Homo sapiens: one gene and its partner. The protein of the gene in region 2 purifies or fractionates together with the protein of the main gene of each other region. This does not show direct contact. Each region holds a gene or a part of one and is shown on either strand. Other genes may lie near its edges.

Region 1 (5,797 bases), on a different chromosome or scaffold from region 2:
CTGTAACCATGTGACTGGTGATGCAGAGTGATAACCATGTCTGCCTATCTTGTACTAGACTCTTCATGCTGATCGGATCTTGCATTGAAATAACCATGTGGAAGAACAATGAATCGATTAATGATGACATGTACAACCATATTTAAAGAGCAATAGTGTCCGTGTGTCATGAAAAACTTATTTGTAAACGTTTATATGGTATGATTTTGATTTTATGTATGTTCATAAATCCTGCACTGTATGATATATGTGAGTTAAAACATTGGTGCATGAATTTATTTTCAAAGTATAAAACACATCACTTAAACATTTTATGTGTCAAATAAAATTTGATTATGTAAACACATTTGTTGACTTTTGTTTCCACAGTAAACAAACAAACAGCTGCACCATCAGCTGAAAAAAACCCTTCTAAAAGCACAAGCTACCATTCGCTGGTTGAAGCAGTTTACCCACTGTGTGCATTTTTAATCTGCTGCAATTTCATGAAATGAAAATACCAAAGCATATTTTAAGTCTATAAGCTTTATTGATACTTTGCTTTTACAGTTCACAATGCATTCCACAGATTTAGTTCAGTACAGCTTAAACCACAATGGTATAAATCTTCATTTTGTAATTAATAATTTCTTGCATAACAATGTTTGATATTTGCAAACAAACAACATTTTTGGAAGCATTAGATTCAGTCCATAGATTCTGTGACAAAATTAACTACAGTCAGTCTGTGCAATGAAATTGATGTTGGAGTTCTATGTGTGTGGCATTTCATGTTGAAAACAGATGGTAGTGCTCCTAGAAATATTTCTTCTTCTAGCTTATGTGCTTTGGAACTACACATGTATAACCAATGACTGACTCTGAAATATCAAGCACTGTGGGGTGGCTGGAAGGTAAAGGTCTAAGCTTTGTGAAACACTATACATATATAATCTATATTTACTTATATTGGCAATTAATATAACAGTAAAAGTCACAATACACCTAGAACATACCAGAAAAGCAAGCTTTGTCATTCCTGCTTTACCGGTATGATCTCGTCTAAACAAACATTTCATTTCAGAAAATCTGCATCAATCTACACGGACCATACACAGTGCACAAACTGAAAAGGGCTTTTTTTTTTTTTTTTCTAGCTCCACCATCTCTGCAACTTGCCAAGATGCGGCAAGACTATCTGCAACAAAGTAAAATATACAGGTTTTTTATTCCACCAGTGCCTCAGATAGATAGGAAAAAGATATGATTACGGTTTAAATCCATACATAGCAGCTTACAATACTTAAGATGATGAACACATGGCAGTCAAGACAGGTAATTTTTCCTCACAACAGTGCATGGCTAAAAATAAAGATCTAACAACGATCTGTGAAACTGCACTGCAACGTCAAGGTTCGTTCTTCCCTGACCCTCCCCCGTATAATCAAATGAATATCCCCTTTAAAGATGAACTCCTACTAATTATTTTGGGCGTTTTCATTCAGCTTTGCGCTTCAATCCAGGGATTTTTGCTTGGATTCTGAAAATGAAAAAGTCAATGTAAATATCAGTTTTGTTTGCTGCTGCTTAAAATACCATCTTCCAAGAACTACTTGTATGTTATTCAGCTAATACAATAAATGAAATCCTTAAAGCTGCCTAATTCTAAGCTATAATTTTGCCACCTTGGCCTCATGAATTAGATTTAAACAAAGCCTTAAACACATAATAAACCCAGAAACGAATGGTCCAAATGTTAGAAAAACAATCTTTTGGCAACTCTGAAGTCACACTTAAGGTCTGATAGAGATTTGTTACTCATTATGCCTGCAATATGAAAATACTGTTCTCACAATCCAGCACACCTTATCCTAGTAAAAACACTGCAGATTTTAAATACTTACTTAGCCATAGCATCTTTAACATTCTTATTTGCAAGTCCTAGATAATGATCTATCTGTGCCTGAAAGAGAGGTATAAAGGAATTATTACCGTTGCTAAAGAATCTTATTAACCACTACTATGTGTCAAGCTAAAGGCTTAAGAAACCATCACACTTCTCATTTTTGTAAGACATTGAAAATGGGCACTAATACATCCGTAAATCCCATGTAATAGAGTGAGTGCTCTATTCTGAAGTCAGCAGTTAGTTAGGAAATTACCTGATGCCGTTCATAAATAACAGGAACACTGAAGAGTGAAATGAGAGCTGAAAAGGGAAATATACAACTTTTCAAAAAGAACGGAATGATTTGGGAGGAATAAACACTCAAAAAACTATTAAACTGGCAACTCAAGATAACCAAGCAGTGTTCCTAATGAATGAATAAAAACATAAGGATCTCTGGATGCATCTGCTGTTGAGGAGCCACTCCAGAGGAATGAATGAACTGTGTGAGGCTGCAGTTATTAGAGCTAGGAACCATTTCTAGCTTCAAATCATATCACAGTGAGATTTCATAAAATAAAGGTATCCCTGGTTAGATTTATGACTGCACCATCATATAAAGCCACCCTTTATCTGGTTTATCACTGTTTGTTAGTAGGAGCTGTCTTCAGCAACTAAGGTAGCATTTCAATAAACCGGGAAGCAGTATCACCAACTTATTTAAAGAGAATACAACCTCAAACTTATTTTGAGATGGAGTTTCACTCTTGTTGCCCAACCTGGAGTGCAATGGCACGATCTCCGCTCACTGCAACCTCTGCCTCTTGGGCTCAAGTGATTCTCCTGCCTCAGCCTCCGGAGTAGCTGGGATTACAGGCGTGCGCCACCACGCCCAGCTAATTTTTTCTATTTTTAGTAGAAATGGGGTTTCACCATGTTAGCCAGGCTGGTCTCGAACTCCTGGCCCCAGGTGATCCGCCCACCTTGGCCTCCCAAAGTGCTGGGATTACAGGCATGAGCTACCGCGCCCGGCCCACATTTTCATCCCCTACTTTTCATACAATGAGAATATTCTCCACTAAAATGTCTAAGCTCCTGGCACACAATCTTTCCAGCAATTTTTCATCCCAATGGCTTTGTAGACTTACCCAAAATCAGTAGTGTCAGACCATTAAACAAGGCACCAACATAGGTAAATACCCACATCAACACTGCAAACTATAAGAAAATAACATTAGCCCATTATAAACAAAATTCAAGTAAAGTTTCTTAATTATGCTTTCAAAAGCATCCCATCTAAATGCCTACCTACAAAAGGCATACAACTTGAAGACTGGGTAAAGTACCATGAGCAGTTCACTATTAAGTCACGAGTCTCAATTATGAATTTCAAAATCCTAAAATAATTAATAGATTTGACCCATTTTCTCTGGACTACACTACCAAGTAGTTGATTCTGCTGAGATCAGACAATATACCAAGGGTGCATCTTACCCCTCCAGCCCTAACAACATTTACCTTTTAAATGGGAAGACTATAAAGGTGTTATGAGAATTGTCTATTAGAATTGATTTCAAAGTATGAACTAGTTGAGTGCTTGAAGATATATGAGCTGAATAATTCAGACATTAATATCTCAGCTGATAAGCAATAATTGGGCAAAGAGTACTTATCAGGGAAATTACGTTTCAGGTACCAAAAATATCACCTCTAGCCTTTGAAGGATCAGGCACAAAGTCAGTCTGAATTTTGTTAAACATTGGTCATCATCAGTTCCTTTGCTTTCTAATTCAAGGCCTTCATGTGTATGTCTGGCAATCACTTTGACCTACTTAGTAGGTAACAAACATGATGCCACCAGCTACAGTGATTATTTAGGCTTATGTAACACTATAAATGAAAAGGGGAGTAGTAGAGCACCCCCATTATCTAAAGCGGGGATCAGCAAACTTTCTCTGTGAAGAGCCAGACAGTAGAATTTTAGGTTTTATGGGCCACATAGGGTTTGTGTCTCATATTATTCTGTGTCGTTGTCATAACCCTTTAAAAATGTACACCACCCACTCTTAGCTCCCACACTATACAAAAACAGGCCGTGGCCCAAACAAGCAGTGGTTTGCTAACCCTTGATCTAAAGCATATATCTTTCTCCATGTATTAAACGAACTCTGACTGAATGCTTACTGACCATTAATTAAGCAGTCAAACATTAGTAAGCATATTTATTACAGCTTAGGAAGACACTTTGGATGACTCTACCAAGCAACAGTTCTACAAATAGCAACACTCTGGTCACCCTAACTGAATTTAACTAATGTTCAAGTCAGTAAATATCAGGCATTCTTAATATCTGTCAATTGAAAAAAAATTTTTTTAAGCTGCCGTATTCTTAGCAATTGCTATTGGAACCCCTGGTAGAAAGGTTTGAAGGATGACTTCAGTTAGTAAGGCTTTTCTCTCACAGTTTTATAGACTCCTATTGCTGAAGCTAAATATAACTTTTGCACTTGAGCAAGTTTACTATAGAGTAAGAGAGTTATTTTTATCCATCACTATCCACAAGTCTAAAGGGAAAAGTGTTGACCTTCCATATTTTAGAAGAAATTACTCTAGCAACGAAGATGCCCTTAACATGACAGAAGATAGTAACAAACACAAGCTAAAATAACTCCTCATTTGGTCATTACAGTCACTGACAAGGCTTCACTCCAAGTCCACAGGGGAAAAGCCCAAGACTTCACACCTGAGCCACTGTAGGGGCTCAAATGTCACTTGCCTCTTTGAGAACACTTCCTAAAAGCCAGGCTATCCCAAGACAAAGAGAAGAACACAGGGAGGTCTCAAATGTCCTTAGGGCCAGGCAGGTGACATACATGTATGTGAGAGGCTGGGAGAGAACTGAGGCACACAGTGATATGCATTCTTCCTCTCAAAGGGGCACTTACAACCCTGCTCCATACGCTGTGGCCATGCAAATATTCCAGGCCAGTGTTGCCAGAAATGTACACTTTTGTGTGCTATCATATAATTTTTAAATGTTGCAGCTATGTTGAGAAAACTGAATACTTCGGCGGCCCAAAACAGAAATAGTGGTTAAGTGTATTCAGGGAACACACCACCAGGAGAGAAAGGGGTGGCAGCAAGAACTAACCTAGAGAGTAACCATTATTAATGGGAATCCACCACAAATGATGGATTTGTAACATGGCAGGAATAAGGTCAATAAACACTTTAAAGAAGCAAACAGGCTGCTCTCATTTTGGACTTAACAAATTCTACACGATTCCATGGCAAATACTTTGCAACATTATAGCCAATACTTATTAACTGAAGAGGTCAAAGCTTATCTCTCCATTGCACAGTATCGAGACTGGAGGAAGGAGGCCTAAAATGTAATGAAGATCTAACAAATACTTACTGAAAAGGGGCAAGGGCCACATCTGGTTTATCTTTCTTCCAGGGCAATAAGAGAATTAAATTCACTGTGTATAACACACCTGATTAAAGAGCTCTGCAGATTTGTGATGTTTCAATTTGGGGGAAGGGGTATCTTTAAGGCAAACGGTGGGAGAGTGCTTAGTAAGATCTCAGAAATTACTCTGGCAGTTCTGACCATTTCAAAACTTTCCTGCACTCTCAAACTCTAAACTCTACTTGCCCTTCTGTGTCTCCTTCAGATTCATTCATTAGTTGGTAGTTTGGACTCTCTCTATATCCCCAGCCCACTTCCTTCTAATTTTTCTGAGAGCTCAAGAAACCTGAAAGGAAGCTGTCAAAATGTGAATGTTAACAGCTGCCTATGAGCCTGAGAGCTAGATTTTAGTGTTCTTCTGGGTCAGCTATTTCTGGAGCTCAGGCCGTTTTTTTTTTTTTCTTCCTCTCACTTTCAGATTTAAGATTGTGTTCTGGAACATTATAGTTGCGCCTCAA
Region 2 (7,034 bases):
ACGTCGTGGGGTAGCGCTTCTTCATCCGGCGAAGGACGTCTTTATTGTGGGCTGCCCACACAAACCCTGTGAACACCAGCACCACCACGATTCCTCCCAGGATCATGTTGAAGGGACTCAGAAACCTGAAATATGAGGAAGAAAAAATGAGGGGTGACTAGTTCAGCAATAGAAGTAGCAAAAGGAGAAAGAGGAGTAAAAACAATTATTGAGAACTTACTAATACTTTAATACTTTATCTAAATTGTCTCATTTGATTTCTCATAACCTTATAAAGGAGATACTATTAGTTCATTTCTCAAATGAAGAAGCTAAGGCACAGAGGTTAGAAAATGGTGGGGAAGGCCAGGAATGGTAGTTCACACCTATAATCCCAGCACTTTCAGAGGCCAAGGTGGGAGGATCACTTGAGCCCAGGGGTTCAAGACCAACCCAGGCAACATGGCAAAACCCATCTCTACAAAAATATGAAAATTAGCCAGGTGTGGTGGCACACACCTGTGTTCCCAGCTACTCAGGAGGCTGAGGTGGGAGGATCACTTGAACCTGGGAGGTTGAGTCTCCAGTGAGCCAAGATTCCCCCACTGCACTCCTGGCTGGGTGACAGAGTGAGACCTTATCTCATTAAAAAAAAAAAAAAAAAAAAAGGTGGAGCTGAGATCACACCCAGGCAGTTCCCATCAAAGTATCTCGTTAGAGGTCCACAATTTTGAAGACTAAAACTTCTTTTGAAGGTACTATGTTTAGCTTCCTTACATCCTGGGCTCTAGTACACAGTAGGTTGTGTTTTCTTAGCTCTAAAGGTTTATTTAAATCCTCAGAGAAGCTCATGATGGACGAATGTAGAATACAGGCCACATAATGGCCTCCATGGGCTAGATCCAGTATACAGTCACATTTTTGTTTGGCCTGTACAGTGTTTTAAAAAACTTTTACTTGAAACCCATGTGTTAAAAAAAAATCCAGAAAACTTGGGATTTCTTGTTCTCCTGGAACAAGAAAATAACAGTGCTAGGCCCACTTTCCCACATGTCAACAGCTGGCTTGAGTGCCTTCTCATTCAGACAGAATAAACAGTCTCCATTGAGCTCCAGTCCACACTGCTCTCTACTGCATCATGGACACATAGGCCCAAAGTGAGGTGCTATTAATCACTGTTTTTCTTTTTTTTTTTTTTTTATTTGAGACAGAGTCTTGCTCTGTCACCCAGGCTGGAGTGCAGTGGCGCAATCTTGGCTCACTGCAACCTCTGCCTCCTGGGTTCAAGCAATTCTTGTGCCTCAGCCTCCCGAGTAACTGGGATTACAGGTACATGCCACCACGCCCAGCTAATTTTTTGTATTTTCAGTACAGGTGGGATTTTGCCATGTTGGCCAGGCTGGTCTTGAACTCCTGGCGTCAAGTGATCTGCCCAGCTCGGCCTCCCAAAGTGCTAGGATTACAGGCATGAGCCACACCATGCCCAGTCTAATCATTGTTTTTCTAATAGCTGGCCTGAATCGCTCTCTTACATAACCTGCCTGCCCCATGGAGGCATTTGAGTTTATGACTCCTCACATAGAGAGTTCATTATAAGTGTTTTAAAATGCCCAAAGTATCATTAGGAGATGAGTTACCAATGCAGATTTTCAAGCACACAGTTCCAGATTCATTCTTATATAAGCCAAATGTTTAGTATGTAATAGCAATTACACTACTATTGATAATGGAGGAAACACATTATGTAGAAGAAATTTATGCCAGGCATGGTGGCACACACCTGTAATCCTAGCACTTTGGGAGGCCTAGGTGGGTGGATCACCTGAGGTCAAGAGTTCAAGGCCAGCCTGGCCAACATGGTGGCACCTCATCTCTACTAAAAATACAAAAATTAGCTGGGCGTGGTGGTACATGCCTGTAATCCCAGCTACTTGGGAGGCTGAGGCAGGAGAATCACTTGAACTCAGAAGGTGGAGGTTGCAGTGAGCTGAGATCACGCCATTGCACTCCAGCCTGGGCAACAAGAGCAAAACTCTGTCTCAATAATGATAATAAGAAGAAGAAATTTAGACAAAGTTTTGGGCATTATAGTCGCCCACCCCAATCCACTGTGTATACAAAACCCTTAACAAGACGTCTGTGGTGGGCTGGTACAATGAGTTACTTAACTTTTTACCCTAGAGGCTAATGAGGACTTTACTTGGGAAGGACACAGACGATAGTGTGTTCTCCTCATGCCCTGAATAGTAACATTGCTGATTTGAAATGAGGGAAGGGGGAAGACAGGATAAGGGAGGGTGATGCCAAGAGCTTACTTTCTCTGAAATGGAAGAGATGAAGAACTCATGCTCATATTGGGATTCGTATTCAGGATAAATACAATTCTTTTTCAAAAATCCCTTTAAATTTTAGCTCTGTTTCTGCCTACTGAAACATAAAAGGAATTTTGAACATTTTAAAATTAAGAGTAAAAGCTTTTCACACCTGAATGGGTGAAATTAAGGGATAAAATCAATGTCAAACTGCTTTGAAAAAGCTAAAAATTTCTATTAAGATGCACAAAGCTAAACAGTGGTAAGAGTAGTTGCATATAATTTTTTTTTGTTTGTTTTTTTGAGATGGAGTTTCACTCATTGCCCAGGCTGGAGTACAATGGCGCGATCTCGGCTCACTGCAACCTCTGCCTCCCAGGTTCAAGCAATTCTCCTGCCTCAGCCTCCCTACTAGCTGGGATTACAGGCACCCGCCAACATGCCCAGCTAATTTTTGTATTTTTAGTAAAGACGGGGTTTCACCATGTTGGCCAGGCTGGTCTCGAACTCCTGACCTCATGTGATCCACCCCCCACCCCCCCCGCCCCTCAGCCTCCCAAAGTGCTATTACAGGCATGAGCCACCGCACCCAGCCAGTTGTACATAATTTAAAACTAAACTCTACAATAATAAGTTGCTAATTTCATTCAAAATCCTTGCAAATACTTGTATCCTTCAAGCCAATAAATCCCCTCCTCAGAATATAGTCTAAGGAATTAAACAAAAACGCAAAGATTGAGTTGTAACAGTATTGATATTAGTGGTATTTATGATTAAAAACTTTCAGAAACGACCTATATGGCCAACAATACCAATAGCTGTGGTATTGTATACACAGCTATTTTTAAAACATTGAAGTGCATTTAATAATATGGGAAGACATTATATATTGAGTGGGTAAAAGCAATTGTAATACATAATGCATTGTCTGTTAGGTAGATTTATCATATAAGTTAGATAGCTCAGAAGTAGAAGTTTCTAGGCTGAGTACAGTGGCTCAAGCCTGTAATCCCAGCACTTTGTGGGGGCCAAGGTGGGTGGATCTTTTGAAGTCAGGAGTTTGAGACCAGCCTGGCCAACGTGGTGAAACCCCACCTCTACTAAAAATACAAAAATTAGCTGGGCCTGGGCTGGGCATGGTGGCTCATGTCTGTAATCCCAGCACTTTGGGAGGCTGAGGCGGGCAGATCACCTGAGGTCAGGAGTTCAAGACCAGCCTGGCCTACATGGTAAAACCCTGTCTCTACTAAAAATACAAAAAATTAGTTGGGCTCGGTGGCGGGAGCCTGTAATCTCAGCTACTCGGAGGCTGAGGCAGGAGAATTGCTTGAACCTGGGAGGCGGAGGTTGTAGTGAGCCGAGATGGTGCCATTGCACTCCAGCCTGGGCAACAAGAGCAAAACTATGTCTCAAAAAAAAAAAAAAAAAAAAAGCCAGGTATGGTGGCAGGCACCTGTAGTCCCAGTTACTTGGTAGGCTGAGGCAGGAGAATCACTTGAACCCGGGAGGCAGAGGGTGCAGTGAGCCGAGATTGCGCCACTGCACTCCAGCCTGGGTGACAGAGTGAGACTCTGTTTCCAAAAAAAAAAGAAATAGAAATTTCTATAATTAGTATATTATTTCATAATCAGAAATAAAATGAATATATAAAAAAGGAAATACAAAAACATAAAAGCAGCTGCTCTCCAACCCACAACCGCCGCTTGGCACAGACCAACCACAAAAGTCCATCTCTACTTGTCCCATCTCGCCAACAACATTAATGGAATTTCAGTTCATGAACCACAGCGAAGCTGTTCCTTCTCCAATCCAAATCCTGGTTTTCTGCTCATCCTCCAGATCCTCTTGTGCCAGTCTATAGCACCCCAGTGCCCCAACCTTCCCCAATACCCAGCACATGTGCTATTCTCTCTGCCCTCTTCCCCTCCCTCTTGGTTCTGTGTTACCTGGGTCTACTTGGCCTCTCTGCACTTTCTTTCTGTTTTATTTTATCTGGATTATGCCCTGTCTTCTGAGACAACCCCGGAATTGGTCTGGGAAAGAAAAAATTCCCTTATACGCCTGAGGAAGGAAAGAATCTGATGAATCAAAACCACAATCCCCTTCAGCAGGTTGTAGAGAGTGGAGAGTGAATGAAGAGGCCTTGAAACTCTTATAGATTAATATTATCTAATTCCCAGCATCACAAAAGATTCTAAGCCAGTGTGGTAGCTCATGTCTGTAATCCCAGCACTCTGGGAAGCCGAGGTGGCGGATGCATCGCTTGAGCCCAGGAGTTTGAGGCCATCCTAGGCAACATGGCGAAACCCCATCTCTCCAAAAAAAAAAAAAAACACCCCACAAAAATTAGCCAGGTGTGGCAGCACACACCTATAGTCCCCACTACTTGGAAAGCTGAGGTAGGAGGATCATCTGAGCTCAGAGGTCAAGGCTGCAGGGAGCTGTGATGGTGCCACTATACTCTAGCCTGGGTAACAGAGTGAGATCCTGTCTCAATTAAAAAATAAAAAGATACTTAGAGAAACTGAAAAATTATACCAAAGACTACAGTATAGTAGGATAAGGGGAGTTTATTTCCATTTGCTTATTTTTATTTTCATATTTTTTTCAATGGCCATGTATTCCTTGATGAATAAAAAAAATTGGTATTTAAAAATGAACAAATGAAATTGGGGAAAGGCTCCTGAATGTAAAAAACCCTTTACAAAGCCTTGACTTTGACCTATAACCTACCCAAATGTTTCTTCTGAGCCGTAAAGAAAAACAAAGATCGCCAGGTACAGTGGCTCACACCTGTAATCCCAGCACTTTGGGAGGCTGAGGCAGGTGGATCACAAGGTCAGGAGATCAAGACCATCCTGGTCAACATGGTGAAACCCCGTCTCTACTAAAAGTACAAAACTAAGCCTGGCTTGGTGGCATGTGCCTGTAATCCCAACTACTTGGGAGGCTGAGGCAGGAGAATTGCTTGAACCCGGGAGGCGGAGGCTGCAGTGAGCCGAGATTGTGCCACTGCACTCCAGCCTGGGTGACAGAGCGAGATTCCGTCTCAAAAAAAAAAAAAAAAAAAAAAAAGCAAAGCAAAACAAAGATCAAATCAACACAAAGAACTCAAATGGAGGATTGAAATTCAAGGAAATTCCTTTGCATACCCTGCAAGTAGGAGTGGGTTGGCTGGCAGCAAAGCATCAAAGGGCTCCTACTCAGTTCATTCTGGAATACTTATTAAAATAATAATTCATGAAGTGAAGCATATAACAAAATTCATGTCAAGCTGTTTTTATTTTCCTCTAGACAAGTAAAATACATATTTAGGTTGAGTGCCTAAAGTCCAGGACAAGGAACAATGAAAAATCCAGGCCTAACTCAAGCAATTCCAAATTTGTTTCACCTGTTCTGGTTGCTCATGTCCAAGAGAAAAGAACAGAGCCTGAAGTTCTATAGAACTGGTTTTAGTTCATAACCTGCCCAACAACAGTCTATAATTAGAAAGCAAGCAAGTTTCCAAGCTGGAAAAAAACTAACGAAGTTACTCTGAGCAGAAATTATTTTCTTCTGTATCTGATAAAATGTATACCACTCCAATGCCCTGGCACTTACCTGTATTTGGAACAAAAGACAGACAGACAGACAGACAGACACACACACACACACCCTCTACAGATTAACAGAAATTCTCAGAAATCTGGGAACCAGTTCTTGCCTGAGATGCTTTTTAGTCAACAGTTGGGCTGTTTATCACAGCAATCACGACAAACCCCAAAGACTTTTAGGACAAAACTTTCCATAAACATGCCACCCATCTTTCATGTAGACAGCTGCCTCTGTGGTCTGCTGGGTGGAGTTTCACTTACTGATAGTCCTAGAGTAAGAAAGAGGGCTGGGTGCGGTGGATCATAACTGTAATCCCAGAACTTTGGGAGGCTGAGGTGGGTGGATCAGCTGAAGCTAGGAGTTTGAGACCAGCCTGGCCAACATGGCGAAACCCCATCTCTACTAAAAACATAAAAATTAGCTGGGCGTGGTGGCGCATGCCTGTAATCCCAGCTGTTCAGGAGGCTGAGACACGAGAATCACTTGAACCTGGGAGGTGGAGGTTGAAGTGAGCTGAGATTGTGCCACTCCAGCGTGGGTGACAGAGCCAGACTCCGTCTCAAAAAAAAAAAAAAGAACGAGGGATGGTGAGAAAGAAGGGAGAAACAGCAGGACCTAGTTTTGCAACTCAAAAACCGTTATGTTTTTCTATTGTGAAATTAAAAATATATTAATACATATGTTTGTATATATTTTAATTATATATATTTAAAATATGAACATGTATTACCCAATTCCAATAAATAATTAATAAATCTTTCCCTATAATAGTTACACATTCTAGAGCAGTCATTTATGGTTATAAAAAGGTTTAGAATCCCATCACAGAAATTTTGTAGCAGTCTTCAAAGATGAATCAGTCTAGTCCAATTATACAGATAACTAAACTGAGGCCCAGAGAAGAAACATATCCAAAGGGATCCAGGAGAGAAACAAGAAAACAAGGGTGCCAGTTGTGGCAGCAACTCACAGTAGAACCCATTCTGTCATGTTAACCGGCTTTAAGGATTTCCCCCACACTCTAAGTAACCTACTATAACCAAGGATCATCCTGGAAAATCCCTCTGCACTCTCATTTCTCTCTGAAACAAGGTGGCTATTAGTGGGTGTGGATACAGGTCCTAAACTTCCCAACGTGATTCAGTAGCT

The links. The genes of interacting proteins can lie anywhere in the genome.
Region 1: the proteins of ARL6IP5 (region 2) and RTN4 purify together in Homo sapiens (affinity purification with mass spectrometry; 4 studies listed by BioGRID and IntAct, with this or other methods). This does not show direct contact.

What each region holds. Positions count from the first base shown.
Region 1 is NC_000002.12:54,971,680-54,977,476, forward strand, and holds the end of RTN4 (reticulon-4), read right to left. Parts: intron 3,086-5,797; coding exon 3,016-3,085; intron 2,189-3,015; coding exon 2,142-2,188; intron 1,943-2,141; coding exon 1,884-1,942; intron 1,520-1,883; coding exon 1,477-1,519; 3' UTR 510-1,476; downstream 1-509. UniProt on the Homo sapiens protein: Required to induce the formation and stabilization of endoplasmic reticulum (ER) tubules. They regulate membrane morphogenesis in the ER by promoting tubular ER production.
Region 2 is NC_000003.12:69,094,930-69,101,963, reverse strand, and holds part of ARL6IP5 (PRA1 family protein 3), read right to left. Parts: intron 126-7,034; coding exon 1-125. UniProt on the Homo sapiens protein: Regulates intracellular concentrations of taurine and glutamate. Negatively modulates SLC1A1/EAAC1 glutamate transport activity by decreasing its affinity for glutamate in a PKC activity-dependent manner.